Regions from separate parts of the Homo sapiens genome. Here region 2 is linked to region 1. Evidence: fine-mapped expression QTL. A gene starts in region 1. The other region holds a variant in brackets. All regions are shown on one strand. Distances are between the middles of the regions. Region 1 holds the start of MYLK (myosin light chain kinase). Region 2 holds the start of MYLK-AS2 (MYLK antisense RNA 2).

Region 1 (16,080 bases):
TCTTAGAAGAAAACATAGGGAAAATTTTTATGAAATATTGGATTTAGCAATAGTTTCTTTGGTATGACATCAATAACATAGACAACAAAGCAACCTACAGAATGAGAGAAAATATTTGCTAATCATATATCTAGAAAAGGATTAATAGTCAGAATATGTAAAGAACCCTGCAATTTAATAACAAAACAACCCAATTTTAAAATGGGAAAAGGAATTCGATAGACGTTTCTCCAAAGAAGATACTCAAAAACAATGCTCCACAATTTTAGTCATTAGGGTAATGCAAATCAAAATTACAATGGACTACCACTTTATACCTGCTAAGTTTATTACTATCAAAAAATAGAAAATAATATATATTAATGAGAATATGGAAAAACTGGAACCCTTGTGCATTGCTGGTGAGAATGTAAAATGGTACAGCCATCGAAACAGTTCGGTGGTTTCTCAAAAAAGTTAAAAAAAATAGACATATGACTCAGTAATTTCATTCCTAAGTATGTTTTATTTTTAAAAGAATTGAAAATGGTCATTCAAACAATACTCATATGCCAATATTCATATTATGCATTATTCATAATAGCCAAAATGTAAAAACAACCCAAATGTCCATTAACAGAAGAATGGATAAACAAAATAATGCTAGATATGAATATTACTCAGCTATAAAAAAATGAAGTTTTGATATATTCTACCTGGATAAACCTTGAAAACATTACACTGAATGAAATAAGACAGACACAAAAGGATAAATATTATATGATTACACTTATATGGGGTATCTAGAATAGGCAAAATGATAGAGACAGAAAGTAGAATAAAGGTTACCAGGTGTTGGAGGGAAGAGGAAATGGGAGATGTTGCTTAATGTGTACAAAGTTTCTGTTTGGGATTATGACAAAAGTCTGGAAATAGATAGTTACACAATATGGTGAATGTACTTAATGCTACTAAATTGTATACTTTAAAAATGGTTAAAATTGGCAGGGCACGGTGGCTCATGCCTGTAATACCAGGTCTTTGGGAGGCCAAGGTGGGTGGATCACAAGGTCAGGTGATTGAGACCATCCTGAGTAATGTGGTGAAACCCCATCTCTACTAAAAATACAAAAAATTAGCTAGGTGTTGTGGCACGCACCTATAGTCCCAGGTACTTGGGAGGCTGAGGCAGGAGAATCACTTGAAACTGGGAGGCAGAGGTTACAATGAGCCGAGATGACACCATTGCACTCCAGCCTGGGCAACAGAGCAAGACTCCGTCTCAAAAAAAAAATGGTTAAAATTATAAATTTTGGGTTATGTATATTTTGCTACAATAAAAAAGTGAAAAAATTAACATGACAGGGAAGAGTTGTGAAATGGTTTGAATTTGTGTCCCCACCCAAATCTCATGTCGAATTGGAGGAGGGGGCTGGTGGAAGGTGATTGGATCATGGGGGTGGATTTCCCCTGTGCTGTTCTTGTGAAAGTTTAGAAAATTTGCAGCCTGACCATACGGTAGTAAAGAAAAACCCATTTTCTGGACAGAAAGTCAAGCTGGCTGCAGAAATTTGCATGAGTGGAGCCAAATATTAATATTGAAGACAATGGAGAAAATGTCTCCAGGGCAGTTCAGAGACCTTCACTGTAGCCCCTCCTATCACAGGCCTGGAGGCCTAGGAGGGAAAAATGTTTCATGGGCCAGGCCTAGGGCCTGGCTGCTCTGTGCAGCCTCAGGACATGGCACCCTGAGTCCCAGCTGCTCCAGCTTCAGCTGTGACTAAAAGGGGCCAAGATACAGCTCAGACAATTGCTTCAGAGGGTGCAACCCACAAGCCTTGGCAGCTTCCATGTTGTGTTGGGCCTGGGGGTGCACAGAAGGCAAGAGTTGAGTTTTTGGGAACTGATATGGTTTGGCTCTGTGTCCTCACCCAAATCTCATCTTATAGCTTCCATAATTCTCATGTGTTGTGGGAGGGACCCAGTGGGAGATGATTGAATCATGGGGGCGGGTCTTTCCTGTGCTTTTCTCAAGATAGTTAGTGGGTCTCACGAGACCTGATGGTTTTAAAAATGGGAGTTTCCCTGCACAAGCTCTCTCTTTGCCTGCGGCCATCCATGTAAGATGTGACTTGCTCCTCCTTGCCTTCCATCATGATTGTGAGGCCTCCCCAGCCATGAGTAACTGTAAGTCCATTAAACCTCTCTTTCTTCCCAGTCTTGGGTATGTCTTTATTAGCATATTAGCATTGTGAAAATGGACTAATACAGTAAATTGGTAACAGCAGAGTGGGGTGCTGCTGAAAAGATACCTGAAAATGTGGAAGCAACTTTGGAACTGGGTAACAGGCAGAGGTTGGAACAGTTTGGAGGGCTCAGAAGAAGACAGGAAAATGTGGGAAAGTTTGGAACTCCCTAGAAACTTGTTGAATGGCTTTGACAAAAATGCTGATAATAACATGGACAATGAAATCCGGGCTGAGGTGGTCTCAGATGGAGATGAGGAACTTGTTGGGAACTGGAGCAAATGTGACTCTTGTTATGTTTTAGCAAAGAGACTGACAGCATTTTACCACTGCCCTAGAGATTTGTGGAACTTTGAACTTGAGATAGATGATTTAGGGTATCTGGCAGAAGAAATTTCTAAACAGCAAAGCATTCAAGAGGTGACTTAGGTGCTGTTAAAGGCATTCAGTTTTATAAGGGAGGCAGAGCATAAAAGTTCAGAAAATTTGCAGCCTGATAATGCAATAGAAGAGAAAATCCCATTTTCTGAGGAGAAATTCAAGCCTGCTGCAGAAATTTGCATAAGTAACAGGAGCCAAATGTTAATCCCCATGACAATGGGGAAAATGTCTCCAGGCCATGTCAGAGACCTTTGTGGCAGCCCCTCCCATCACAGGCCAGGAGGCCTAGGAGGAAAACGTGGTTTCATGGACCAGGCCCAGGATCCCTGTGCTGTGTGCAGCCTGGGGATTAGGTGCCCTGTGTCCCAGCTGTTCCAGCTGGCTAAAAGGGGCCAATATAGAGCTTGGGCTGTGGCTTCAGAGGGTGCAAGCCCCAAGCCTTGGCAGCTTCCACATGGTGTTGAGCCTGCAGGTACACAGAAGTAAAAAATTTAGGTTTGGAAACCTCCACTTAGATTTCAGAGGAAGTATGGAAATGCCTGGATGCCCAGGTGGAAGTTTGCTACAGGGGCAGGGAAGTCATGGAGAACCTCTGCTAGGGCAGTGTGGGAGGGAAATGTGAGGTCAGAGCCCCGACACAGAGTCCCTACTAGGGTACTGCCTAGTGGAGCTGTGAGAAGAGGGCCACTGTCCTCCAGACCCCAGAATGGTAGATCCACTGACAGCTTGCACCATTCGCCTGGAAAACCACAGACACTCAATGCCAGCCCATGAAAGCAGCCAAGAGGGAGGCTACATCCTGCAAAGCCACAGGGGCAGAGCTGCCCAAGACCATGAGAACCCACCTCTCACATCAGTGTGACCTGGTTGTGAGACATGGAGTCAAAGGAGGTCATTTTGGAGCTTTAAGATTTGACTGCCCTGCTGGATTTCGGACTTGCATGGGGCCTATAGTCCCTTTATTTTGGCCAAATTCTCCCATTTAGAATGGCCATATTTACCCAATGCCTGTACTTTCATTGTATCTAGGAAGTAACTAACTTGCTTTTGATTTTACAGGTTTATAGGTGGAAGGGACTTGCCTTGTCTCAGATGAGACTTTGGACTGTGGACTTTTGAGTTAATGCTGAAATGATTTAAGATTTTGGCGGGCTATTGGGAAGGCATGATTGGTTTTGAAATGTGAGGACATGAAATTTGGGAGATGCCGGGGCAGAATAATATGGTTTGGCTCTGTGTCCCCACCCAAATCTCATCTTGTAGCTCCCATAATTCCCATGTGTTGTGGGAGGGACCTGGTGGGAGATGATTGAGTCATGGGGATGGGTCCTTCCTGTGCTGTTCTCATGATAGTGAATGGGTCTCACAAGATCTGATGGTTTTAAAAATGGGAGTTTCTCTGCACAAGCCCTCCCTCTGCCTGCTGCCATTCATGTAAGATGTGACTTGCTCTGCCTTGACTTCCACCATGATTGTGAGGCCTCCCCAGCCATATGAAATTGTAAGTCCATTAAACTTCTTTTTCTTCCCAGTCTCACGTATATCTTTATCAACAGCTTGAAAATGGACTAATTCATGAACCTCCACCTAGATTTCAGAGGATGTATGGAAATGCCTGGGTGTCCAGGCAGAAGTCTGCTGCAGGGGCAGAGGCCTTATGGAGAACCTCCACTAGGTTTGTGTGGAGGGGAAATGTGGAGTTGGAGCCCCCACACAGAGTCCCCACTGTGGCACTGCCTAGTGGAGCTGTGAGAAGCAGGCCACCATCCTTCAGACCCCAGAATGGTAGATCCACCAACAGTTTGCACCATGCACCTGGAAAAGCTGCAGGCACTCAATGCCAGCCTGTGAAAGTAGCCACAGGGGCTATACCCTGCAGACCCACTGGGGTGGAGCTGCCCAAGGACTTGGAAGAGCATCCTTGCATCAGCATGCCCTGGATGTGAGACATGAATTCAAAAGAGATTATTTTAGAGCTTTAAGATTTAATGACTTCCCTGCTGAGTTTTGGATTTGCATGAGGCCTGTAGCCCCTTTGTTTTGGTCAATTTCTCCCTTTTTTTTATTTGAGATTGTGTCTCCCTCTGTTGCCCAGACAGGAGTGCAGTATCACGATCTTGGCTCACTGCAGCCTCTACCTCCTCAGTGCAAGCAATCCTCCTGCCTCAGCCTCCAAGTAGCTGGGATTACAGGCACGTGCCACCACACTTGGCTAATTTTAAAAATATTTTTAGTAGAGACAGGGTTTCACCATGTTGCCCAGGCTGGTCTTGAACTCCTGACCTCAAGTAATCCACCTGCCTTGGCCTCCCAAATTGTTGGGATTTCAGGTGTGAGCCACTGCACCTGGCTGCAATTTCTCCCTTTTGGAATGGTAGCATTTACCCAATGCCTATATCCCCCTTGCATCTTGGAAGTAACTAAGTTGTTTTTGATTTTACAGGTTCATAGGCAGAAGGGATTTATTTGTCTCAGATGAGACTTTAGACTGTGGATTTTTGAGTTAATGTTGAAATGAGTTAAGATTGGGAGACTATTGAGAAGGGATAATTATATTTTGCAATGTGAGCAGGACATGAAATTTGAGAGGGGTTGGGGTGGAATTATATGATTTGGATTTGTGTCCCCACCCAAATCTCATGTTGAATTGGAGGAGGGGCCTGGTGAGAAGTGATTAAATCATGGATCATGGGGGTGGATTTCCCCCTTGCTGTTCTCATGATAATAAGTGAGTTCTCACAAGATCTGATGGTTTAAAAGTGTATGGCACTTCCCCCTGCATTCTCTCTTTCTCCTGCCACTATATGAAGAAAGCACTTGGTTCCCCTTCACCTTCTGCTATGATTGTAAGTTTCCTGAGGCTCCCTAGTCATCCTTCCTGTTAAGCCTGAGGAACTGTCAGTCAATTAAATCTCTTTTCTTCATAAATTACCCAGTTTCAGGTAGCTCTTTATAGCAGTGTGAAAACTGACTAATGCAAGTTGAAAGAAAAAGAAGAGCCAGATAAAAGTGAGTGAGGGAAACAGAGCCAGGAAATCTTAGAAGTCCAGCCACCATATATATTTTTTGACACTACTCAGAAACAACAAACGGGAAAGCTTTGTGAAGTTTGAAAAACTGTCTGGACCAAATCTCCTTTTAAAAGTTCAAGAAAACAAAATTCATGTAAAAATGATCAACAAAAAAAATACTAAGGTCAACTCTCATATAGCTACTACAACAAAGTGAATAAAGATCATAATAACCTCCAGAAAGATATTCTCAAAAAAATTAAAGCTATAATGTCCTAGAAAAGCTAATACACACTGAGTGACATGAAACATGAAAGAACAACATACATCAGAATTAGAGAAACTCAGAAATTAGAACAGAACTCACAGAAGAATTAAACGTTTTATTTTTTATTTTTTTTTGGAATTAAACATTTTAAAAAGCATTTGAGAAATAAAGATTGACCTATAAGGAACACAAGAACACATAAATATAACTAATAAAAACTTAAAAGAAAATAAGGTAAAAAGGAGGGAAATTTATAAACTTAAAAACAAATGAAGAAAGAAATTAAAAAGATTTAAGGGAAAGTGACAAATGTTGAAGATAGACAAAAAAGGTTCAATATGCAGATAATAGAAGTCTCCAGAGAAGCAGTCTAAAGCAATCCAAAACAGAACAAATATTTAAGACTTTAATTGAAGAAAATTTTCCTGAAATTAACAAAATATATGTATTTGAAACCACATTTTGAAAGAAATACACACTGTTTACTTTCAAACTAGAATGACCAACAAACATTCTAATAAAATTACTGGATTTGAAAGAAAAAGATAAAGTTATTTGGGCATCTAGGCAAAGTGAGAAGGTGCCGTCTACAAACCAGAAAGAGGGCTCTCAACAGATACTGAATCTGTTGGAGCCTTGATCTTGGACTTCCCAGCCCCCAGAACTATAAGAAATAATGTTTCTTGTTTATAAGCCACTTATTTTGTGTTTTTTTTTTTTGTTGTTGTTGTTATAGCAACCCAGCTGGACCAAGACACCAAGTAGTTTGAATCCAACAAAATTGACCTTCAAGTAAAATGGCATGAACAAACTGTAAGCAACATGCAAGAACTCAGAGCATATTCTTTCCATGAGCCCTTCCTAAGGAATCTAGTAGAGGACAAGCTTTCAGACAACCAAAATGACTAAAGATACATAAACATAAGGAACTAATGGTAAGCATTAAATATATATTTGAACTTTAATTAGGATTAGAATTGTAGAACTGTAAAATTAAGACTAAATTAGGGTTAAATAGGAAGATTATGGTATAGATGGCTATAGAAGCTGATAATTTAGATAGAGTATAACTATAAAAGATGGATAGCATATGCAAAAAAAACTGTTTTCAAGAATCAAAACTGATGATGGTAGTATTAATATTGTTATTCTGAGATTATTATTATATGTTTAATGCAAACTAAAGCAAATTAGTAAATTGGGATATTCTAATTTCATCCTCCCTTTTGTCCTTGAGAACCAGAATTCTCTACATGAAAGAAAAGAGGTCCTAATGTAATATATGTTAAGTAAAAACTACAGTCCTGAAATTAAATTGGAAATAATATAAACTGATGAAAATATTATGAAGAATAATATTTCTCTAGAATATAAAAAAATGAAGTATTCTTTAGTAGCTCTGTCTATTGAAAAGGCCTAGAAACAGTTACCAACCTAGTAACAATGAATACTCCTAGTGCTCATATTGTTATCTTAAAATTTCAACAAAAGAAACTAGAGCTTCTGGCCAGGCGGGGTGGCTCATGCCTGTAATCCCAGCACTTTGGGAGGCCGAGGTGGGCAGATCACGAGGTCAAGAGATTGAGACTATCCTGGCCAACATGATGAAACCCCGTCTCTACTAAAAATACAAAAATTAGCTGGGTGTGGTGGCACGTGCCTATAATCCCACCTATTCAGGAGGCTGAGGCAGGAGAATCCCTTGAACCAGGGATGTGGAGGTTGCAGTGAGCCGAGATCGTGCCACTGCACTCTAGCCTGGTGACAGAGTGAGACTCCATCTGAAAGAAAAGAAAGAAAGAAAGAAGGAAAGAAGGAAAGAAGGAAAGAAAGAAAGAAAAAAAGAAAGAAAAAGAGAGAGAGAAGGAAGGAAGGAAAGAAAAAACAAAAAAACTAGAGCTTCTTGGAGAAATGGCTGATTCCAGGTTTGAGGCAGCAAATGTACAGATGTGCCTGGAACATCTTGTCATATCAGATAGCAAGGAAGCTATCAAAGACTTCTAGGGTCTTTGAAGCTCTTTGCACACTAGTGAGAGAGAGAGAGAGAGAAAAAAAAAAAGACTACTAGAATCTTATCAAAAGGAGCCAGGAGCCATATTGAAGAAGCTCCTACTGGCCAAAGATGGGACAATTTGAGCTCTAATATCGTAGATGGAAACCTATCAAATATATTTAAATTCATGAATTTATAATGATATTAAAGAAATCTAAGAATGACAGAGAATCAATTCCTTAACTTGAAAACTGGGTAATTTTTTTAAAAAAAAGCAGGTATTCATCGTGCCTTTCCTATCTCAGGGTAATCAAATAGTAGATGAGAGGAAGCATCTCCTTATCCACTTATGAACTAATAAATGAAAACAAAATTATTAGAATACCATGATTTTGCAAACTTCAATTAATTAATGAATCTAGGAATTGAGCATCGACGGCTGTTAACCTCAAAAAAGAGCAAACACCAGACATCATGATCATGTACCTCTTGAAGAAAAGAACACACAACCATCTATAATCTTACAAAAGACATCAAACTTCAGTCTGAGGAAGACCCTGGATCAGCTGCCAACTTGCTGTCAATACAGAGGACAGAGAAACATGCTGAATTGCCTCATGAATGTGCAACCCCCAGACTCTGGAAAACCTCACAGATCAAGGGCTTAAGTTATTTAACAAATAATTGTAAGGAAAAGACTGAAAAGGCAAATCAAATTAAAAAAAAAAAGAGTGGGGGGAGGGGTAAGGTGCACCCTTGGAAGATACCAAGAAAAACAAAAGCAGCAGAAGTGACTACATGAAAGTCAGGTTAGTGGTTACTTTTGGGAGGAGGGAGAAAGGGGGTTGTCATTGAGGTAGGGCACATGGAGAGGCTCCTGGGGTGGCTGGCAGAGTTCTATTTCTTGATCCAGGTGGTGATTACAAGGATGTTCCCTTTATAATAATTCACTAGTCTATATATCTATATATTTGTTTTTTGTGGTTTTCTGTATTTATGTTTTATTTTACAATTAAAAAATTTTTAAAAACACTCCTTAACCTGCAGTAAACAGTTTTTTTAAAAAAAACAAAAGAAGGTCCAAGTGAAGAGATCAGAAGCTATAAAATATTTCATATTGGGTGCAAACTAAATATAAAGCAAGCCAAAACCAGAAACACCTCCTCCCCCTCCCCTCCCCCCCCTCCCCTTTCCCCTTTTTTAATTTAAAGAACTTTGTAGGTATCTTCCAAACCAATGAGAGATTCTTAACACACACAAAGGGAGGATGTCAGAGGAACCATGGGGCTGAGTTGCACCACTGGAGGATGTCTGAAAAAAACTACATAGACAACCTTCCAGCACTAAAACTTTAGCCCCATGGTTCCGCTGACATCTTCATTTTACAGATTAGAAAACTGAGGCCCAGAGGCAGCCAGTGTCTCATGCACGCTCACGAAGCTAGCATCAGACCCCGACCTAAGGCCTAGGTCTCCCAGTGTAGGACTAAGACACGCACCAAGACAGTACCAGCCCGCTGACCGCCGCCTGCGAGGAGTTAACTGGGGCGGTGCAGGATAAGTGCGAGGGGGGCCCGGGTCTGGCGCTAGGTTTGGCTGCGGATTCTCCGCTCCGGACTCCGAGGCAGAAGGCGGGTGGGCGTGGCGGGAAGGGCAGCAGGTCCACTCCCCGAGCGCTATGCAAATGTCATGCAAATCAGTGCATGGGGGCTGGAGCGGGTGGTTTGAGTCCTGACCCCGTAGCGCCGCGCTCTCACTCGCTCTCCTCAGCGCGCGTCCGCTCTCCGCTCTCCCACTTGCTCTCTCTCTCGCCGGTTCGCTCACCCCCGCCCCGCCCCGCCCCGCCCCGCCCTGCCCAGTCCCGGACGCGCCTCGCGGGCTCCCCGCGCCGCCCGGTCGGCAGCAGGGCGCTGAGCGAGCTCGGAGCCCGCGCTGTGCGCCTGCGGCCGGGGCGCCCCGCCGAGCGCCGGTGCCCCGGCTCCCGGGCCGCCTTCGCCGCGCGGGTGAGTGAGCCCGCCCCATGCTTTTGTCCAGGCGCGGGCCCTGGAAGTCAAGGCTCCGAGGGTGGGAGTTCTGGGTGGGGGCTGGGACCCCCACCGTCTGTGCCTCCCGACTCCCCTAATGGAGAGGGGCCCCGGGGTGCGGCGAGGAGTCAGGGGCGTAAGGAGACGACCCCAGTGACGCCAGGCTGCACGAGTTTTCTTTTGGGGAGATGAAGTGCTTGGGGACACTGATGCGATTGCCTTTCTAGGAATCATCCGAAGGGGGTGCCTTTGATTTGAGGGGCGGAGGAGAAGCGGACCCTTCTCCCAGCTCCCAGACCCTCGCTAGAGGACTCGGTGACGGCCTCTGGGAAGGGGGTGCCACGTGAAGGTCCTTCCAGCCCAAATGTGATTCCGGGAAGGTAGGGCGGGGAAGGCGGCCCGCGAGTGCCAGACCTGGCCATCCCAGGCGAAGCTGGGGCGCGGGCTTTGCAGACTTGTTCCTACTCCATACTCCTCATTTAAGCTCCTTACCTCGCTCTGCCTCCTTCGCGTTAACTGGGGTCCCATTGTTGAGGGACCTTGTTCGCCGATGATTGCAGTTGGAAAGTTTTGGATAAACTTCTCAGGAGATGTGAGTTGTCAATGGTTGAGGTAGACCCCTCCCTGGAACTTATGGAACTAAAACCCTTCAAGACCCAAAGGACTGAATTTCTAGGAGTGGCATTGCAGATGTGAAGATGGGCTGATGGGGAAATGGTTTCAAGGATATATATTTTTTTTAGATTGGGGTGTGTGTGTTGGGGTGCGGGGCACTTTCTATTTCGTAGCCAGAAGGAGAAGACCCAGCTCTACTAGAGTCTAGAGGGAGTAAAATTAGCTGTTGTGATTCAGGGAGCTGGGTGGGTGTAGGGAAACACCTGGGCAGTGGGCATGATGCCAGACCTCAGGCCGTTGGTTTTTACCATCCCTCCTCTCCCCAAGTGCAAAGACCAGAGTATATGCAATGACCCGCCCACCCCACAGCCTTTGAGAGCCTGCCCTGGAGCTGCATCCCCCTTCCAAGAGAGGCTGTGTTCTTCTCCACCTGAATGGAATACTTTTTGTCAAAATGCACTTATCAATAAATTATTTCCAGATGGTGGGCTTAGGAGGACCATTTGGGGAACCCCGCCCACACTTCAAAGAATCAGGAATCAACAATGCAAGTCTCTGGGAGAAGTGTAGGTGCATCTGGTGACTTTACTAGGTTCCTACAAGGCATTTAGGGTTCTAATAGAACTGTTTTCTTTTCTCTTAAATTCTTGACCTCCTTCTCTCTTCCGTGATTCTCTTAGTCTCTTCCCCGCCTGCACACTGTGGGACTGTGGAGGATGATGCTGCTGGCACCACAGTGCTCTAGGGCAGCATGGAATTTTCCTTCCTGCCCAGAGTGAGGTTACCCCTTTTTCTCCCACTCTCAGTGGGCCAGGAGCCTTGGGTCTGGGAGGAACCTGAGCAGTTGGTCCTGGGTCCGGAGTGGTTGGACTCTGGATGCTGGATTGGGTAGCGGGTACTCTGGGGACATGCACAAGAGCTTTTTTTGCCAAGATGTGCAGGTCTGTCTCATTGTTCACTGATGATACAAAGGATGCTGGACCTCATTTGCAGCTAAGCATGAGCTTGGAGAACCACCCCACAGTGGGGAAGCATTTATGCTGGTTTATCTCCCATGTTCAGTTTCTTTTGTGTAATAACTGGCTAGCTGAGGAGGAGGGTAGCTGCAGCATTGTAGATGTTTCCTTGTCTTATTTTTATTTTTATTTTTTATTTTGAGACAGGGTCTGGCTCTGTTGCCCAGGCTGGAGTACAGTGGCGTGATCTCAGCTCACTGCAACCTTGACCTACCAGGCTCAAGGAATCCTCCACCTCAGCCTCCTGAGTAGCAGGGACTACAGGTGTGTGCCACCACACCTGGCTAGTTTTTTGGATTTTTTGTAGAGATGGGGTCCTACCATGTTGTCCATACTAGTCTAATGGGCTCAAGTGATCGCCCACCTCTGCCTCCCAAAGTGCTGGGTTACAGGCATGAGCCACTGCACCCAGCCAGAGTAGTTGCTGTTTGTGTGAGGTTTGCTCACCCCTTCATCAGGGGCTGCTTCCCCAGGGGCCAGATCTTAGAAAACATATGCAGAGCAGACTAGGCCTTGGAACATTCCTAGGCTAACTGGTAAGGCCAGGTGGCCCCACCTGCTGCCTGAAAATGGTAGACAGACAGCTACAGTCACTGCAGAGGAGGGGCTCCTGGCTGGCAGGTGGCGGGGGTAATCTGCTGAGAAGGCTTGTCAGAGAAGGAGGTGACCCAGATGGTGCAGAGGGGAGAGGCCTTTGAGTTCCAAGGGTGGGGAAAGGTTCTGGGTCTCTGGCTAGGGAGATCTTTGCTGGTCTCAGAGGCATAGATTGTGAATGCGCTGGGGTCACCATATACTCAGTGTCTTTGAGAATGACCCCTTGCTTTTATCCTCAAAATATAAGATGAGCCTAGAGTTTGAAACACAACTAGTTGGCTTGTCTGTCTTTTAGGAAGTTCATAAGGTGGGGTGGGGGTTTCAGAATGCAGCCTTGCTTGGGGACATGGGTACAGTGTCCCATGAGTATGGGGTGTCTTATTTAGTATCTTTCTGAGAACAATACTTGGGAGTCTGGAAATATAAGCCTACTTGGAAGCCCAGCTGCACCTCTCACAGCTCAAACCAACCCACACAGGCTGGGAGATTGTTCATTCTTAAAAGCTTCCTGTCCTGTCTTTTCAGCAAATGTAGTAAAATTTAGAAACAACACTTAAAAAGTATCCTTTCCCAACAAAAGACAATGTCCTCGCTCAACTTGGCCAGCAGAGGGTGCATGCAGAGGACATGAGGCAGGGCCATTTGCATGGAAAATGTCCATGTGGATGCTTAGGCCTGAGCAGGGTCTATTGGGTGGCCTGAGTGCTCAGAATCAAGGAACCGTCCAGCAGTGAGCCAGAGTGGGACAGAACGATGTCACTGTGATGAGCTCCTATGCCATGTGACTTCTATCTCTTCCCTGTGCTCCCCCAGCCTCCTACCTTACAAGCAGGCAGACATGGTTGTGCGGGGAAGCAGTGCCCATACAAGCCACGCCCCTCTCCCACCTGCACCATTCTGCAGATGGATTCTCTTTATTCTTCCTTGAGTTTTGGCTGCACACTTTTCCATTCGTTTGATGCCAACAGGTTGAGCAAATGCATTCCCCTCACAAACTCAAGGTGGGTGGACCTCCGTATTTGCACTGCGGGCCAACAGGTGCATCCCTCCTCCTTGTTGCATGCACCTGGTGTGTGAGGGCTGCAGCCCCCATGAAATTTACTGACAGCCAGCCCAGTCAGCTGGGGCAGGAGGAGAGCCAGCAACAGTTGCTGCCTCATGGGCTGGAAGGTAAGGCTGTGTTTCCAGATGCTCCCACCACCTTCTTTTCCCTGCCCTCCTGCTCACTGTACTTCAGTGTCTGAGGGTGAATGGGCACCCCACTAGGGAGCTGTGGAAATTTTTGTGTAGATCCAGCTTCTTAGATTTCCCACGTTGTCCCCATCCCCCCTCTGTTGGTACTTCCTTGCCCCCCTTCCACCCTCTGCTCCTCTCCTTCCCTGGGTCTTCAGTGCAGAGCCCTCTGGAGACAGAAAGCCCCTTTGGAGACAAAAGAAAAGGGATGAGGAGAGGATTTCCTTTTCTTTCAGACCTGCTTCTTGATTTTTTTTCCCTTGGCTCTGGGCGCTCAGATCTGATGCTAATTTGTTAATCCAGGACCTTATGGGTTATTTCTCATAATCTTTGGGGGAACCGAACACCTGCAACTTGGGGCTTTTATAGTTGAGGATGCTGTTTACCTTTCTTGTTTTCAGAGATGAGGATTTCTGATGTATAGTAGGTCTCATTCAGGTTTCTGGCAGGAGGAGGCAGCCAGGCAGAATGTGATCTTTGGTGTTAAACTTGGGTTCAGTTCCATCCCATTCACTTACTGGCTGGGTGTTCTTGGGCATGGGTTTTAACCTCTGTGAGCTGACTTGAGTTTTGTCATCTGACAATGAGGGCGGTTATAAAAATTAAATGAATATAGGAATATAAATAGGCACAAAACAAAGAATAGCTTTTATTATATATACCGGGCAGTGTTCTCCAGGTCTATATAATGACTTGTAAATCAACCAGCAGACACTAATGATGTCTACTTTCTATTGAGCTCTGTAGAGGCTTATAAAACAAAGGTAAATGTGGGCCAGGCACGGTGGCTCACGCCTGTAATCCCAGCACTTTGGGAGGCCAAGGCAGGTGGATCACAAGGTGAGGAGATTGAGACCATCCTGGCTAACGCGGTGAAACCCCGTCTCTACTAAAAATACAAAAAATTAGCCAGGTGTGGTGGCGGGCGTCTGTAGTCCCAGCTACTCGGCTGTAGTCCCAGCAACTCGGGAGGCTGAGGCAGGAGAATGGCATGAACCCAGGAGGCGGAGCTTGCAGTGAGCCAAGATGGCGCCACTGCACTCCAGCCCAGGCGACAGTGTGAGACCCCGTCTCAAGAAACAAACAAACAACAACAACAAAAAACAAAGGTAATGTGTCTATGCTAAGAGACTCTGGGTGGGTAGCAAGAGAGCTAACACATAGGTAATTAGAAAACAGGGACAACATGCAATTTCCAAGTTTCATTAACAGAATTAAAGGATGACAAGAAATTCAGGGGCTAGAGTGATGCAGGAAGGCCTCAAAAATGGAGAGGAGGAAGGGAGGGTAAGCATTTGCCAGGAGAGAGGAAGGCAGGAACATTTGGCTCCGGTGTCTGAAGGCTGTTAGCTCCTTCCTTGCTGGGCCCTGGCACAACACCTTTGACCTTGCAGCGCACTCCCAAACATGCAGGTGTGCTTGTCCTGAGGTTTATTTTGGGGGTGGTTTTCATTCTGGCCTTGTTTTCCCTCTGCTGCCAATAATATTTCTGAAACATCTGAAATTGTTTTATTTTATACTCGATCAAAAATATTAAGAGGCAATTGGGTGGCCAGAGTGAAAGCCCAGAGGCCCGTAGAAGACTTTTGGGTTTCTGGGGCTTTGTGTTCTCTTTTCATGCCTCATATATTGTAGCTCACTTCCTAGTTCTGGAATCACAGGGTGTTAGGACTAAGGGTCAGGTCCACTTGACCTTTGCATTGGACTGAAGAGGAAACTCTGGCCTAAGATGCCAAGTGGTGGCTGGGCACCGTGGTTCACGCTTGTAATCCCAGCACTTTGGGAGGCCAAGGCGGGTGGATCACCTGAGGTCAGGGTTCAGGACCAGCCTGACCAACGTGGTGAAACCCCATCTCTACTAAAAATCCCAAAATTATCCAGGTGTGATGGCAGCCTCCTGTAATCCCAGCTACTCGGGAGGCTGGGGCAAGAGAATCACTTGAACCCAGGAGCAGAGGTTGCAGTGAGCTGAGATCATACCACTGCACTCCAGCCTAGGCAACAAGAGCAAGACTTCGTCTAAAAAAAAAATCCAAGTAGTAGAGCCAGCATCAGCCAGAGTTCTCATCACTACCTATCCTGGTGGAGGATGGTGATGGCATAGGAAGGTGAACGGCCTGACATAGGCAGGAAGAATGGATACACATTGGTTCCCTCATCTGCCCACCTGCTTCTCTAGAGTCCTTTAAGGCTGTCCTCTTTAGTCTGAGGGTCCAATGGGGAGCAGGAGTGAATGTCCTACCTTTATCTGGCCTGTGATCACTGCCATCTGTCTGCTTCAGGGCCCCTGGATACCGAGTGCTGTTCCCCTTTCCTGGGGTCAGACTACATGGAATGTCATCTGAGGCTGTGGGAAACACCAGGAAGATGCCCCGGGTTTGGGGGCTAGCTTCAGCACTGTCTTCTGCTATGTGACGTGGTATCTCCAGGTCTCAGATTGTGCACCTTTAAATGGACAGAGAAGCCCTTCTCTACTCATCTGATGAGGCTGTAGGCAGATGAACACGTGCTTGGCAACCTGTGCTTGTGCTGTGGTCGTAAGGGTAGTGTCCTGCTAGGCACTGTGCTCCTGGAGGTCACCAGCTGTGGTTCATCTTGTATCCTTACTCATAGCCTGGTGCCTGACACACCACAGGTGCTCAGTACATCTGGGTGGAAGGACTGGCTAATGGGGTAAATGGAGGTGCTCAGAGAAGATTCTAAGGGATTTGCTGTGTGCCA
Region 2 (16,080 bases), 190 kb after region 1:
GTTTGAAGTGCTTTTGTAAATCCCAAGTCTGGGTGGGAGCTCTGAGGCCGGCCGACCTCCACACCCCATTCTGGCAGCCAGCGGAGGGATAGGTTGCCAGCACAGAACAGAGTCCTGCCTGAGCTGATGCTGGTGGCTCCAGACAGGGTAGGGTACAAAGAAGCTCCCAGGAAGTGACATTTCACCCTTGAGGGGCAGAGGGCAGCCACAGAAGAAGCCGGAGTGGACAGGTCCTGTCAAATCTGAGTCAGCTGAGGTGTCAGAGTGCTCTTCCTGTGGGCTGCTCCCCTCCCTGGCCCCTGGCAGCACCCTCCCCACTCCCTCCCTCACCTTTTATCGTGCCTGCCTTCCCCTCACAAGCAGAATGGAGCATTTGAAGATCACAGAATCCCTCTCAGCCCCCGGTAAGGGTCTGTCTTCCCTCTACATCTGGGACAGCACACCTGGAGCAGCTGAGTATATTGAATCTCAGCGCTGAAAGAGTGAAGGGGACACTGGCTGGCAGAGAGAAACATGTTATTTTCTGCTAATGTGTTGACGCAGTAACTTTTCCATGTGGATGTCCTCAGATTGGCAGGGTCCTCCAGAAGTCGTCTCCTCCATCCCCCACCTCTGCTGGCTCAGCCCCCCTCCCCTGAGGCATGGGGGATTATTGGGCTGGGGTGAGACTTCAGAGGAGCAGACGCCACAACCTGTCCTGCCGCCCCTGTGGGGCTCTCCCACTTGGAAAGTCCTTGGTAAAACTGATTGGAAACCCTGACTGGGAACATTTCCCAGGTCACCCTACGGTGATCTCTCCAGGCAGGATGCAGGGTGGCATCCACCATCCTCAGGACAAGGTTGGGGCTGTCCCCTGGCTCTCTGATCTCTTTTCATTATCTGTGGTCCCTGCATGGCCTCTCTTGCAGTTCGCATCATTCTTAATATCTTTCTTGAGTTCTTCTTTGCTAGTGGATTTCAGGTTCTCATCAGGCTTGGCGCTGCCCATGGGCTTCAGGGTCTCAGCAGGTTTGGCGTTGGGAGGTCTGTGGCTGCTCCAGCCTCAGGGAAACTGAGGTTAAGTCAGTTGGGGGCAGCTGTTCTTGGGCTTGCATGGGGTTTAAACCCAGAGCCATCAACAGCCACTTACAAACAATTCACTCAACTAAGCGATGTAAGGCAGACCCCAGGCCTGGTCTCAGAAACTCTTCTGAGCCATTAGCCACTGTCTTCTCGTGCCCTGAGTGCCTGCAGTATGTTTTCCCTGCTGGTCCCTTAGTGGTAAAGAGCCTAGAGATCCTAGCCACTCCAGCCTCCCTTCCCATGGAAACCGTCCCAGAGGGAACAGTTCAGATCCAGAGCAGCAGCAGAAGAAATGATCCAAGGAAGGCTGCACACGAAGGGGAGAGAGAGACCAGGAGAGGTGGAAAGGGATTCCAGAGAGAGCCCCAAATCAAACTGTAAGACATCTTCTAAATATTTTTAAATTGTGTTTAAAGAATAGCTGACATATGTTGAACACTATGTGTTAGACACTATCTTAGGCCTCTTACACTTTTCACCCATTTAATCCTCCCAACAATGACTGTACTGTCCACCTAACAGAGAAGTTAAGTACCTTGCCAAATGCAAGGTGCTGGGGGTAACAGAGCTGGGATTTGAACTCAGGTGGCTGAGTTCCCGTGCCTAGACCACCGTGCTATATGACCTCTTAGTTAATTCCTATTATTTTATCAGGGTACTGGTGGCAGCTGAGAATTTGTCTATCAACAGAAAACACTAATGACTATTTACTCCTCGATTTTGTTAAGAGTTGTCCAAAGGTTGAAACACTGATGGTGCCCCTAGCCTTGCCAGGTTTCTGGTATTTTCCCTGCAGTGGTGGAAGCAGACCTTGCAATGGGCCTGTCTTGCTTCAGTACAGGAGAGTGCGTTGTCTCAAAAAATCGGCCCCACCTTCTGTCCCTTCACTCGCCAAGACTTCAAGAGCCCAGTGTTTTGTTAAGGAAAAAACTTATCTTAAGGCTTCATCTATCAGTCACCATTTAAGCAGGTCCCTCCTCAGGCAGTAGGGCATTCTGAGAGGTGGAGGGAGTCTTTTCTCAATAGATGTGGAAGGAGAAGACACACTCACAGTGATAAAATTGTTACAGCCAAGTGCTGACAAGTGCTATGAGTGTGTCGGGAGGAGCTGCTGGAAGTGGGAAGAGAGGGAGCTGAGTGCTGGACTTTGATCTAAGCCCCGAAGACAGGCCAGAGGGGACGGGCTTCCAGGCGGGGGCCCCGCAGCAGCAGAGGCGTCCTGCTAACAGCTTGTTCTGGGCTGGAGAGGATGACATGGCCCCAGTTTCATCCTATATTCTGCCAAGGAATTCCAGTCTAAAGGCAGTAGGGAATCATGCAAGATTTTGGGATGAAGAACACTGTACATGAAGCTCAGTTTAGGGGTTTTGGTGGACTCTGTGCCCAAAAGACAAATACAGAGCCTACTGAAGAGGTCGAGAGGAAGATGGTGAGGCCTAGACTAGCGTAGTAGCCACAACCACAGTCAGGGAATGACCAGTTCAAGAAGCAAGGATAGAAGTAATGGCACCTGTTGCCTGGCTTGGAAGGGCAGGATGGGGGTGGGGGTAGGTAAAGAAGATGAAGGAATGGAAGACCACTAAGTGTGGGTGCCTGAGTGGCTGGGGTCTCAGTGGTCGTGTCAGTGGGAATAAGGAAGCCGGTGGTTGGAGGAGGCTTCTAGGGGAAGGTGAGGGAATGGCTCCGCTGGCCTCCCGTCCTGCATCCTTCACACTCAGCTCAGCACTGGCCCTGCCCCCGGCTTCCTGACTTGGAGCCCTTTTTGCTCCACTGCACTGATCCCCACCCTGTCAGCTCTGCTACAAACAAGATTCACTTCCTCCAGGATGCCTTCCTGTTGTCACCCACCTTTGGCCACGAGAGACTCTTGCACTGTCCCCTCCCCATCAACCTGTGTATCTGCGTGCACCAACTGCTAGTGGACGTGCTGTTTATAGGTTTCAGGGGACTTCTCTGATGTCTGTAGCTTAGATAGGGCTCATAGCCCACAGACCCCCACCCAAACAGGATTACATCACCCCATTTAGTTCACCCCCTTTCGTGCTGAGGAAAGCAGAAGAGGTTTGACAGCCATGGGCTAGAGTTCACCACTAGTTGATTTGTGGCAGGACACAGACACGTGGAGGTGTCCTTCCTCTTCCTGTACCCCTAGAGCTGCAGGGCTGATGGGATTCAGAGTTACCACCAACTGGGCCTGCCCTCTGCCCCCAAGTCTTTTCCTAGCCCTTCCGGGACCTGCCTCTGCTGAGGGGTGGTGGGAGGCCGATGGTCCCGTGAGCTGAGGGGAGCTCTGTGGTGGCCTGAGAAGAGCTTTATCTTTATGCTTTGTTTCCTGTCTCCAGGCCAGGCTCCTCCTCCTGGCAAAACACTTTTCCGAGTCTAACAATGAGGATTCATTTTTGTTGCTGTTGTGAATAGGTAATTCATTTTTAATTGCCTTCAGGGTAGAATTTTGCAAAGGCTTTTTAAAAACCCATGTAAGTTCATCCTACGAAAAATGGATTTATGCAGCATCTACTATGAGCAAGGCATTATTCTAATGCCCTTTGTTGTGTGCATAATCCACTCAAAGAACTCTGAATTTTCTTTTTTCAGAAACTATATATTATCTTTTTCAATAGTAAGTTATATTTAACTGTTTGTGACCTTTTCTTACATAGATCCTACCAGATCACCTGCTACAGAAATATGCCTTCATCCTTCTCAGAATGACAAATATGTTTTACTGTGACTGCATTCCAGGCTTAGGAAAAACAGTGGTGTTAGACAGGGTCACTGCCCTCTGAGAGCTGGTGTGGGAGACAGGCATGCAGGTCAGCAATGGCCTTGTGAGCCGTGCTTTGACATGGGTGAGCTCAGAGTTGGGAGCACAGAAGAGGTCCGCCTAGGCCTGGGGGATTAGGGGGAACAAGGAGGACACCATGCCTGCAGGGGTGACCTGGAGATGAGTCTTACTGTCTGGGCTTGCCAGGTGGGCTGGGTAGGCTGACTGAGGCAGCCCTATAGCAGAGCCTCCAGGAAGCTCCCTCCCTCCATCCACATCCCCTTCCTCCCCTCTGCCCCCAACTCAGAAAAGGAGAGAGCTGGGGGAGCTTCAGACCCAGGAGCGCTTACTCCACCACAGCCCTGAGGGGCTCTCCCAGGCGGAGCTCTGCAGTGATGCTGACCTCTCCCATCCCCCTCATCTCCCTCTCAGAATTCCCCACCAGGCTGAGGCTTCTCAAAAAAAAACCTCTGGGAAACAGCTTTTCTTCTAGAGGTCAAGAATGAACTGTCCCACAGGAAATACCAGATTCTTCATCTGGGGTAGCCAAGCCTGCAAGCCTGCTAGGGGGGCCTCCCCAAGCCCATGCACATGGCCAGGGGTCCAGGCTCTGGGCAGGTTGGAAAAGCTGCCTGCCCCATGCCTTGCCCTGGGAGAGGAGGCAGGGGCCGGGTCCACATGCCCCTCTACTCTCTGTGTACTGTCTTTGCAGCTTGTATCATTTTGACTTAAGACTCAAGGCAGCTGAGGGACTGAAACTGAAAGAAAATCAAGGATTTGAACAGGATGTGCGTTGGGGGTGGGATATCTGTTCCCAAAGCCTTAGCCCCACCCTGACTTGAGGGAAAATTTCCAGATGGGATTGGTCTCTGCTAAGCCTCTGAGCCCCTCTAGTTGGGGCCAGAGGTCATCTTGGCATCCTCCCGCCCACCCAGATGAATGGAAAGTTCTCTCTCCAGGACATGGTTATCCTCATTCCCCACTCCTGTGCCTCACGATTCTTACTCTTATGACAGACTTCCTAAAATTCCAGCCTAAATCCTCTCCATTACAGTTTCTACAAATTCTGACTCCTAACTACAAAGGGAAGAGAACAGAGTGAAGCCTTCCCGAGGTTTGGGGTCTGTATAAGGGTATAGGAAGTGGGGAGTGGGGTGCAGATCAGCCCTCTTGCCCCAGGTGGTTTATAGGATGAAGGTTTCTCTGTTTAAAACAGTACCCTGGTGGCAAGGAGTAAAGGGGAATATTACACCCTTCCTTCCTCTTCCAGCCTTAGTGAGGTTTTCTGGGCAGAACTGATATCCTTACTCTTTCTAATCTCCTTGTATTTGCTGGTCAAGGCTGTGCATTTGTGTAATGGGGGGCAGGGACAGTAGTTGGTGTCCACTCAGAATGCACCCAGCTCTTCCCTCCCAATGCCAGTGGCTTGTGGGACATGAGATGGGAGCTCCAGGCAGCAAAGTGCATGTGGCCCTGGCTCTGTCCTCCTGTGTGACGGTTGCTTCCCTGACAACAGGGGCAGCTTTGAGCAGGATGCCCTGCTATTTACTTGTTTGTGCATCTGAAAGCAAGAATAAGGAACTGCTGCCCTTCTGCCTGGCCCAGCAGGCCTCTTTCCACACCCTGAGGGAACCTCCCCAAGGGGTGGCCCAGAGGAGAAGTAACCAGTTCTGGGATGAGAGAGCTGGCAGGGGCCAGGACGAGACCCTAGATTCCTGTGTGTGCCTAGCTGACACCTCCTTCCCCAAACCAGGCCAGAAGATGGTGCTGGGAGTGAAGGCAGGCCCAGGGGAGAGTCCATGGAGAAGAAAGGCCATCCCCACTTCTCTCTGGGGCAACCAGAAGACCCAACTCCGAAGGGAGGCAGCCCCAGAGGGCCCCTCTGCAGGTCCAGTCCCCCTCATTGGCCGTGGTTCTCCAGCTCAGACACCTTTCCTAAAAAGTCAGCTCCTGGGTGTAGTCACCACCTCCCAACAGATCTTCCCACAGGCCGGTGCCCCTCCTGGACAAGGGCTCCTAGCCTCCTCCACCCACTTCTTTGCTCAAAGCTTCAAAGCTCCCTTTTCCAGAATGCAGTCACAGCATCACTGCTGTAAACAAAGTGGGACCTCCTCACCTGTCACTGTTCCTAACACAGGTCTGTAACCCTGTGTCGGACTCCTTTTCTCTCTTGGTGACGTCCAGGGGGCAGGGCCTGTGTGCATCTCCTTGTATTGTATTGGATGGTCTCCAAAGGCAGAGGCTATTTCTCTCCCTTCTTTTGCAGCTTTCTATTATGTCCCCACAAGAGGACTCTTTGGAGTGGGGGAGGAGGTATCAGGAAGGAACGTATTTAGGGATCAGTTATTTTGGACATGGGTTATAAGCAGAAAGTTCCCTGGCTTTGGTGAGGAGTGGGGGATTGGTTCCCACAAGGCCTCTGGCTTCTGGGCTCCCAGAGGCTGCCCGTGCGAGTAACACTCACCTGCTGCGCTCCAGATGCCAGGGCAGGTACTACGACCACACCTGGTTCACTCCACAATTCTTCCTCCCCAGGCTCACTCTGCTCCGTCTCCATCGAGAAGGCACTGCCTGAGGACAGAGGCTTATACAAGTGTGTAGCCAAGAATGACGCTGGCCAGGCGGAGTGCTCCTGCCAAGTCACCGTGGATGGTAGGTCGTGCCCACCCATCGCCGCCACCCATACACAGGGGTCCCATTTCTCAGCCCCTCCCTTCCTTACCATACCTTGCCTGTCAGACAGAACTGCCTCCAACACTGCCCTCCCTACCCAAAGGCATTCATTTTGGATGAATGAATATCTTTTGCCAAAAGAAAAAGAGACAGGAAGGAAAGTGGCAGCTCTACTTGATCACCTACATGGCTTCACCCCTCCCCTGGCTGTCCTGTCCCCCTCCCAGTCCTGATCCCCACACCCAGAACCTTCTGAGCTGGGAAGCTGGGGCACTGGGCAGTAGAAAAGACACACCCACAGGAAAATGACTACAGAGTATTTTACAAAAGCCACAACAAACAAGTGTCCGAGCTGGCAGGACGACCCAGCAGGGTCAGCCGTGAGGAGGAGGGAGCAGAGCGAGGTCCGTGTGGGAGACTTCCTAGAGGAGGTGAGTCGGGGCTGAGTCTCTGGA[C/T]AGAGAGGACAGGGCAGCCTCTGCCAAAACAAAATGGTAGTAGTAATAATAATACTGCAGAGGGAGGTGGGAGGACACATCGGGGAGAAAGCAGGCCTGCCAGGTCTTAGCGGAGTTTCTGTGTTAGGAAGAGGCAGTGCCAAGCTGCGAGGAACTGGGCTTTGTCCTAAGGAAATGCAGGAAGTGCATTCATGACTCTTTTTTCTCTCCTTCCTGGGGAGTATAGAATTGGAACCTGAGAAGTAGGATGAACCTCGTGATGATTTAGATGAACACCCTCATTTTACAGATAAGAAACTGAGGGCATCCAGAGAGGAAATGCATTTTGGAGGGGGGCTCTCTGGCCCATTTAGGGCCAAGCTGGGGCCAGAACCCCATCCCAGGACTCACAACCCAGGATCATTTCTTTGTATTTGGCACTTACCTGGAAATGTCTCAAAAGGTAGTTTTGGGGAAATAGTTTCTTGCCCTTGAAATGTCTGGTTAATAACCATCAGAGACACATCAAAAACTAGTGTCCAAATAAGGCATCTTGAAGCCCAGCTTGGTTGTTCTTCTCCCTCCTGTGTGTGATCAGTTGAGTTCTGAAGTCCTAGCCCGTCTCACTGCCATTCCACACCATGTAGAGCCCGTGTCCTCATTCTGGACTTTACAATTGGTTTCCTGATCACAGAGCTGAGCTCTATGGAACATGATGAATGGGAGAGAGGTGGAAAAGAAAGTCTTTTTTATAAAAACACAATGGCAGCACGAATTAATTGTTAATAGCCGAAAGGTAAGCTGAACTCATCTAATACTGTGTACTTCTCCTTGGAGATCGTGCGTATATGTGCTATAGGGGCTCTGAGTCTAAGGAAGCGGACTTGATGTGTCCAAGTTTATGCTCAATTCAGAGGGGGCATGGGACACATTTTGAGGTTCTGCACAGTGGATGCTGTGGCTGATGACTCCTGTGTGGGAGTCTCTCCTCACCCAGGCTGTCACCCACCCAGATCACAGTCCTGCTTCTTTCTATACAGGTGCTGCACTGTAAAGTATAGCGTTTCTGAAAACATGATCCTTGAAGCCCACGTCTAACACCCCTCTGCTCGTTTGGGACTCACACTGGTTCCCGAGCTAGTGAAGGAGGTTATCGGCTTTCGGAGCCTCTTTAGGTCCTGTTTACATGGCTAGCTGAAGGCAGGAGAGCAATTCATTCTCCCTATCTGTAAAATGTCAGCACCTTTTCTAGATTTGTTTTCAAGATGAAATTTCCTTTTCCCCTACTGAATACACTTGGGGATTTTTTTTTTAAGGTTTGGGGAATTCATTCTGCAACTTAAAAGGCTTTGTTTGCCCAGAGTCTGCTGGCAGATTCCCTTGTCCTCTCCACTAATCTTGATGACCATCATTATTTATCCCTAATTCCTTCAAATGCAGAGTTAGGCCTCCAGCTGCAAATTGGGAGCTGGGTCTTGGAAGAAGAGCTAGAAAAGTGATAGGAGGGAGCCCAGCTGAGATAACAGGACTGACTCTCAGTCCATTGGGTTTGGTTTTGTTGACAGAAAGGATAAGGGTGGCCTCTTCCCCCTGCTTTTCTTTCCCTGTTGCTATACTTACAGATATATTAGCATCCTGTTTGCCCACATTTAGCTTTATTTTTTCATCAAGAGCCTCTCTAGGAAAGTAGTAAAGGACTGTTGTCACTTTGACAGCTCCCCTGTCGCCTTTCTATCGTCTGGTGCTCCACCCCACTGGCTAGGCTACATCTCCTGCCCTCATTCTGTCCCCTCATCCCCTCAGCTCTCCCTACTCCCCAAGGCATCATACTTGACTTGGGGATCCCAGTGGGTTTGTGCCTCCCCTGAAATTACAGGCAAAATGTTGCATTATGTGGGTTGGAGCATCTTTCTGAAGAGAGGGGTCCATAGTTTTTAGTCAAATTCTCAAAAGGAGTCATGAATCAGAATACGTTGAAGAACTACTTGCCGTAAGCAGCAACAATGACTGAATTTTCAAGCCCAGCCATTGTGTGGGCTCTTCCAGCCTGTCTCCAGCTGCAACTGCCCACCCAACCTCTGCATAGAACCAGGCCTTCATCCCTCTTATGGGGCAATGAGGTCCATCTCCACTAGGCGATGGGACTACAGCTGGTGCTGACTTCAGACTGGCTTCCCCAGCCACTCAGCAGGGCTGGCCTGGCCCCTGAAAGTCGCTATCATTCACTCATCCTGTGCCAAACACCATCGAGACCATACATCTGAGGCCAACATATCTTTCAAAATCTCATAAAAATGAGGCAAATGGGGCTAAAATAGCATTACCCACACTACTGATTCCCTCATATCATAAAGATAAGGGATGTAACCTTTATAACACAGCACAGCTGGCTATTTTAATCATGTGTTTGGGTCTTTTTCCTAAGAAAAGGGGTGTTTATGAACTTGCTTGATTATGGTCATATCACCCTTCCTTCTGAACTCAGCAGAAGACAAGGGTTAACTTGTGCCACATAGAAGGGAGCTAAAACCTAGAGTAAACGTGGACTTGCCCGAAAACTCACCCAGGAGGAGAACAAGCTGACCTTCAATGCCTGTCCTGGCCAGAGACTCTTGTGCACTTTGCATTTTCAGTCTATGCAACAGTTGGGCAGGGTGTCTTTCTCAGTGAGCAAACTGAGGCTCACCAAGGGTCAGCTGCCTTCCAGGCCCCACAGACAGTAGGTGTAGATCTGGTGTTGGGGCTCCACCCTGCACAGTGAATTACAACATGAAATATCCTGGCAGGACTCAGTGGTCTGGCTCTGAAACCTGTTCCTTTCCACAGCCTGACACAGCCTCCCCGGGCAGTGAATTACCATGGTGGGGCCCGCTCCCAGAGTGATCCAGACCTCCCTGAGTAACAGTCCTCCCTGTGGGGAGGTCCTTCTGCACGTGGGACTCAGTAACCCCTTTCCTCTCATTCCAACCCAGATGAGCAGTGAGGAAACTAAGTCCTTCCTAGGCCAGAATCCCATGAGAGGACTCAAAAAACACCTTAGCCCCTCACTGGCTCATCCAGTCATTCTCAACTCAGGCCTCCTGTCCCCAGCCACCCTGGCCAGGGCATCCAGCTTTTGGTACCAGTGAGACCAGGGCTTTGTGACCACAGAGGGTCATGCATGATTGTGATGGGAAGGGACACTCCAGTGGGTACTCATGCCATCACTCAGTCATTCAACTAATATCTGAGTGCCCACTCTGTGCCAGGCACTGCCATAGGAGCTGGTTTTAAAACAGTAAATGAAGTAGGAAAAGTTCCAGCTTTTGGGACTTTTCTAGTGGGAAAGAGGCAGTAATGCAGGTGAACAGCTGTGTCATATCCTCAGGTAATGTCACCAGCTATGAAGAAAGCAAAGCAGGGTAATGGGGGAGAGAATACCATTTTTGGAGGGGGTGGTCACTGAGGCCCCTCTGAGGAAGGAACATTTGAACAGAGACTGAAGGAAGCAGGGAAGGAAGAGGGACAAGGTGACAACAAGAGCATAGCCCTGAGCTGAGGACACTGTGCTTAAGGCGTTTCAGGAGGCAGGAGGCCAGGGTGGTGGAGCCATGAGCAAGGGGCAGGATGGTAGGAAGTGAGGTTGAGGAGGACCGTGGACCAGATCCAGGCAGTGTTGGCTAGGACAAAAAAAATGAGATTTTATTCTAAGTGTTATGGGCCAACACTGGACATTTATGAAGGATCACTCATGTCCATGTGATGACCAGACCCAGGATGAGTCAGAGGGAAAGCAGGGAGCACAATGGGGGGTTGCCACAATAGGGACAGGAAGTGATCAGATTCATAACCTCTTTGGCTGTAGAGCTGATATGAGTTGCTGGTGAGCTGGGTATGGAGAGAGAGAGAAGTTAAAGATGACTCAGTTTTCATGGGGGAGTGAAGACCAATGGTGGGGCTGGGGGGCACGATCAAGAGTTTAGTGCATGTGAAGTTTAAGATTGCTATTTGACCTCTCAAGCGGTCCTGTCACATAGGCAGGTGTTTAGGTGAACCTGGAGTTGAGGGGGAGGTCAGAGTTGGAGGTGGGATACAGGGAGCCATCCACACACAGAGGCCATTCACTGCCCTGGGGTTGAATGAGGTCCCTGGAGAGTACAGAGGTGGCTATAAGAAGAGGGAGAGAGAGAGAGGCAGGGGCAGGACAGGGGCCTGCGAAGAAGACTAAGAAGGAAGTACTCCAGTGAGATGGGAAGAAACCCAGGAGATGGGGGTGTCCCAGAAACCAAATGCTAAGAACTTCAAAAAGGAAGGAATGATCAAGATTAGTGTGCCAGGCCAGGTGTGGTGGCTCACACCTGTAATACCAACACTTTGAGAAGCAGGTGAATTGCTTGAGCCAGGAGTTCAATATCAGCCTGGGCTACATGGTGAAACCCTGTCTCTACAAAAAATACAAAAGTTGCCTGGATGCTGTGGGGCATGCCTGTAGTCCCAGCTACTCAGGAGGATGAGCCAGGAGGACAGCTTGAGCATGGGAGGTTGAGGCTACAGTGAGCCAAGATTGTACCACGGTACTCCAGCCTGTGGGACAGAGGGAGACCCTGTCAAAAAAAAAGAAGAAAGGAAGAAAAGGAAGAAAGGGAAGGAAGGAAGGAGGGAAGGAAGGAAAGGAAGGAAGGAATGAAGGTAGGAAGGAAGGAAGGAAGGAAGAAAGGAAGGAAGGAAGGGTCAGGTGCTGCTGCCAAATAAAGATGAGCCTGAGCACTGGCTATTGGGTTTGCCAACATTGAGGTCATTGGTGACCTTGCAAGAGGGCTTCAGGGGAGTGATAGTAACAATAGCCTCATCTCAGGCAAACAGAGACTGAGTCACCTGCTCAAGGTCACCCTAACTAGCAGAGTGGGAAGTTAAACCCAAGCCTTGGTGCCTAACCACTGTGATCCACTGTTATCTTGGCCCCTGGGCACTTCTGATTATTGCTGAGCTGATTTTGATCCACCCCTCCTTTCTTGGCCTCAGCCCTGCCATATTACTAAGTCTGCTCCCACCCCCACATTTATTTATTTATTTATTTTGAGACAGAGTTTCACTCTTTTTGCCCAGGCTGGAGTGCAGTGGCATGATCTCGGCTCACTGCAACCTCTGTCTCCTGGATTCAAGCCATTCTGCTGCCTCAGCCTCCCAAGTAGCTGAGGTTACAGGCACCCGCCAACACGCCCAGCTAATTTTTGTATTTTTAGTAGAGAAGGGGTTTCACCATGTTGGCCAGTCTGGTCTCAAACTCCTGACCTCAGGTGATCCACCCGCCTCAGCCTCCCAAAGTGCTGGGATTACAGGCGTGAGCTACCGCGCCTGGCCCACATTTATTCTTTAAATCATCACAGACAACTAACGGGTATTATGTGAAACTAAATAAAATTGCTGTTTTTGTAGGTCAAAAACACTTCAATACTGGCGAATGGTGTAGTTCAACCTGATCTGAGCATACAAAGTACTTAGCACCGTGCATACATGGAGTCAATACCCAGTAAATGTCAGCCATCACCTTACGACTTGGCCACACCTCCCTCACTCTTCTATTGAGGTGATGTTATTTCGGTTTTCCTTGTGAGGAAGCTCAGACTCAGAAAAGTTCAGGAACTTGCCCAGGGACTCACAACTCCTAAGCAGCAGAGCCAGAAAGCGCAAGCATCCTGATCTCTCTTCCTTACTACGCTAGCACACTGCTTGCACTCAGTCAGAGAGAGAGGCCAGCAAGGAGGGATGAGCCAACCCAGGGAGAGGCTGGAGCCCAGCCCCTCTGCCCTGCCCCACTGGGGGCCCCTAGAAGCTGGACCCCTCCCAGAAGCTTCCCAAGACCTCATGCCCCCTGCGTGGGGTCAGAGTTCAGGGAACCAGCCTCTTGGGGGAGATTAAAAAAAAAAAAACGCTGCCCAGAGAGCTTGAGTCCAGAGCCCAGGAGTGGGAGGGGTGAGGCATTGTCTATATAAGGACACATTTTCCTCTCAATGTAGAGGCCCCCCACTTCCTCACACCTCCATCTTCCTCCCCCACACTTCTTTGGGGACACAAGCAAAGGACTTCAGCCTTGGGGGCCTAGATCTAGAAATGGAGTTTAATTTCATCACAAAATGATTAAAATAGAAAATACAAGCTGCTCTTAAACTTATATTACTATTATTTTTATCCCCTGGGCAGCCATGTGAGCACAAAGCTGGTTTTGATTAGGCACATGGCCCTTCGAGCCCACTCCTTGCTGCAGTTCGCATGGAGGTCTGCTGGCTCCGCATCCCTGGCAGGGCCCCGTGGTGCATGCACAGCCCCACCGTGCTGACACTTCAAGTGGAGCGCGGCCACCCCCTGGGGCTCCGAGTCTGGGGTGTGCCTAGTTTGAAAGGGGGACTTCAGCCCCTTTCCTCATGGCCAGATGGAAAGATAAAGTGCTGCAGAAACTTCTAAAAATAAGACTCAAAGCACATTACAGGGTAGTGTACTGACACGTCCAGTGAAAACCCAGCACCCTAGGGCCGAGGACGGAGGCAGAGGCAGATGGGGCAGGGCAGGGAGTGTTTTCTGAAGGTGGAAAATTTTAAAGCTGATTCAGAAGGAGGTAAGGGAATGTGGCTATCAAGAGGAATTAATTCATAAGTGATCATTTTCATTTTCTTTTTTTTTTTTTTTTTTTCATTTTTTGGAGACAGGGTCTCACTCTGTCATCCATGCTGGAGTTAAGTGGCATGATCACTGCAGCGGCACGATCATTGCAGCCTCAAGCTCTGTGGGCTCAGGTGATCCTCCCACCTCAGCCTCCAAAGCAGCTGGGACTACAAGCACATGCCACAGTGCCTGGCTAATTTTTGTAAATTTTGTAGAGACGGGGTTTCACCATGTTGCCCACGCTGGTCTTGAACTTCTGGGTCCAAGTGATCCAACTGCCTTGGCCTCCCAAAGTCCTGGGATTACAGGCGTGAGCCACCACGCTGGGCTGATAAATGATCATTTCCTGCTTTCCAAAACACCGTTGCATGTGTTCTCTCCTTTGGGCGTCAAAACACCATGAGGTAGAGAAAATAAGTGATTCCCTTGTACAGATGTGGAAACAGAGATGGGACAGTTTAAATTATTTGCCCAAGTTCCCAAGGTTGCTGATGACAAAGCCAAAGCTAGAGCTGTACTCTCTTGGCCTCTACTGTGGTGATGCTTGGAAGTAAAGCCCAACACAACCCCATGAGGACGAAAGGAGTCTCAGTACCTGCTGCCCTTCTTTCAGGAGCCCAGGAAAACTGGGCCTCTCATACTTTGCTTTCTTGTGCCTCAGCTTACTCATCAGTTAAAAAAGCAAACCTGATCCTTCTTCTTCTCCCTCCTCTATGCTCCAAGACTCACCAGGAGAATGAGTGCTGAAGCCAAGGAGTGCAGAACTGCATACATAGTCTGCCCTGTACTCCTCTTCCTTAAGAAGGGCCGGGTGCCGTGGCTCACGCCAGTAATCCCAGTACTTTGGGAGGCTGACGCAGGCAGATCACCTGAGGCCAGGAATTCAAGACCAGCCTGGCCAACATGGCGAAACCCCATCTCTACTGAAAATACGAAAAATTAGTCAGGCGTGTACTCAGGAGGCTACTCAGGAGGCTGAGGCATGAGAATCACTTGAACCTGGGAGGCAGAGGTTGCAGTGAGCCGAGATCATGTCACTGCAGTCCAGCCTGGGTGACAGAGTGAGATTCCATTTCAAAAAAAAAAAGGGGCCAAACAAAACAATTACTGGGTACACCTTTCTTTACATTGTCATTGGTGACTGTTAGAAATGCTGGTCTTCAAGGAAGGGAAGAAGGGAGAGGCCCGGACAAGGGAAGCTTAGACTGACTCCATGCCCCTGGTTTATGGCACCCTCATCCCCAGATATCAAGGGGAGGCTCTGCTAGGTTTTTCTGCCTCTTGGAATAGTCCTGGAGCCACTCCCTGCGCACTCCCTGTGCTTGAGGAGAGACGAGGAGTTTTCTGTTGGCCAAATATCAGTCATCCATGGAGCTTCTGGATCATATCGTGCCCAGACCCCAACCCAGACCAATGAAACCAGGACCTGTGGGGTGTGATACCCTGGCACACGTGCTTCTAACATACAGCTGAGGCTGAGATCCACCGAGGCTGACAAATAACTATGTCCAGAGGATTTTTCTGTAGCTGAGAATGACCACGATCCTTGGGGAAAATGTCCAGTGTAAGAAAATGAAATCATCCCTGCCCCATGGCTTTCTGCTTCTCTGTGTCCTCATGGAACTGGCATGCTGGGTTACAGGCAGCCTCCTGAGGAGCTTAAGAGTGTCCACTCCAGATAGCAGGGACCCCTGATGTGCCATCTGGGGCTCCTTTGCCCGTATGGGAGGTGGCAGGAGTTCAGCTTGCAGTGGGGAGTGGAGGCAAGGGAGCGTTTTGGTGTCAAGTGCTACTTGAAAGGGTTGCTTTGGCTGTCTGCTCCCCCCAACACCCCGTCACATACTGCTAAGTAGTCCTACTTAAGGCCCACAATGGTGCATGCAGGGCTTTCGGCTGTCTTTGGTGGGGGATTGCCCCCACAGCCCCCGGAGGCCTGTCTGCTTCTGAGCTGCCATGAGCCTGCAACACCCGCACAGGGCCTCCTCCCTGGATTACCCATAGCAGAGAGGAGGCAGGCACTAGGTTGGGAAGAAAGCCTATCGGGGTGATGATGAGCAGAGGGACTCATGCAGGCAGATCCATGTTCTGGAGAAGGCGAGGGGCCTAAATGCCTCCCAGAAGGAGAAATGCATCCAGAGGCAGCTCAGAGTCCACTTGCTGGGAGAAGTATGTTCCCAGCCCCCAGTTCTGCTCCCTGCGCCCACCCCTCAGAGCCCCAGGAGCCCAGTCTAGGCAAGATCAGCCCTGACTGCCAGTCCTGGAGGCGGACCATGAGAGGGCACTTCCTCCCCAGCCAAGCCTCAGGAATGTGGCGGAGCCTCTGCTGGAAAGTCCCCCCACCCACCCCCACCCCCACTTAGCTTCCTCTCCTCAGGAGCAGGAAAAGGATGCCCAGGGAGGGGGCTTCAAGGGGGAGACTCTCTCAGCGCCGTCCCCAAAGAGTGCTCCTTGTGGGGAAAGGAAGGCCAGTGAAAGTGCTGGGGCCCAGTGATAGCCACTCAACCAGCT

What was found. PIP is the estimated chance that this variant, and not a neighbour inherited with it, causes the effect. A credible set is the group of variants that fine-mapping cannot tell apart.
Region 2: its variant is the best candidate, but not a certain one, in a credible set for the expression of MYLK in whole blood (INTERVAL, PIP 0.79).

What each region holds. Positions count from the first base shown.
Region 1 is chr3:123,878,006-123,894,085 of GRCh38, reverse strand. It overlaps MYLK (myosin light chain kinase), which reads left to right and starts at 9,754. Exons shown (of 34, transcript NM_053025.4): 1 at 9,754-9,880. It also overlaps a transcript of CCDC14 not described here. RefSeq lists a silencer at 9,715-9,874.
Region 2 is chr3:123,683,133-123,699,212 of GRCh38, reverse strand. MYLK (myosin light chain kinase) reads left to right here. Exons shown (of 34, transcript NM_053025.4): 19 at 6,362-6,478. MYLK-AS2 (MYLK antisense RNA 2) reads right to left here and starts at 9,569. Exons shown (of 3, transcript NR_046629.1): 1 at 9,497-9,569; 2 at 7,379-7,636; 3 at 6,806-6,974. It overlaps LOC105369194 (a long non-coding RNA gene), which reads right to left and starts at 6,397. Exons shown (of 3, transcript XR_924417.4): 1 at 6,291-6,397. RefSeq lists an enhancer at 15,910-16,080. The variant C/T (reference allele first, on the strand shown) is at 6,955.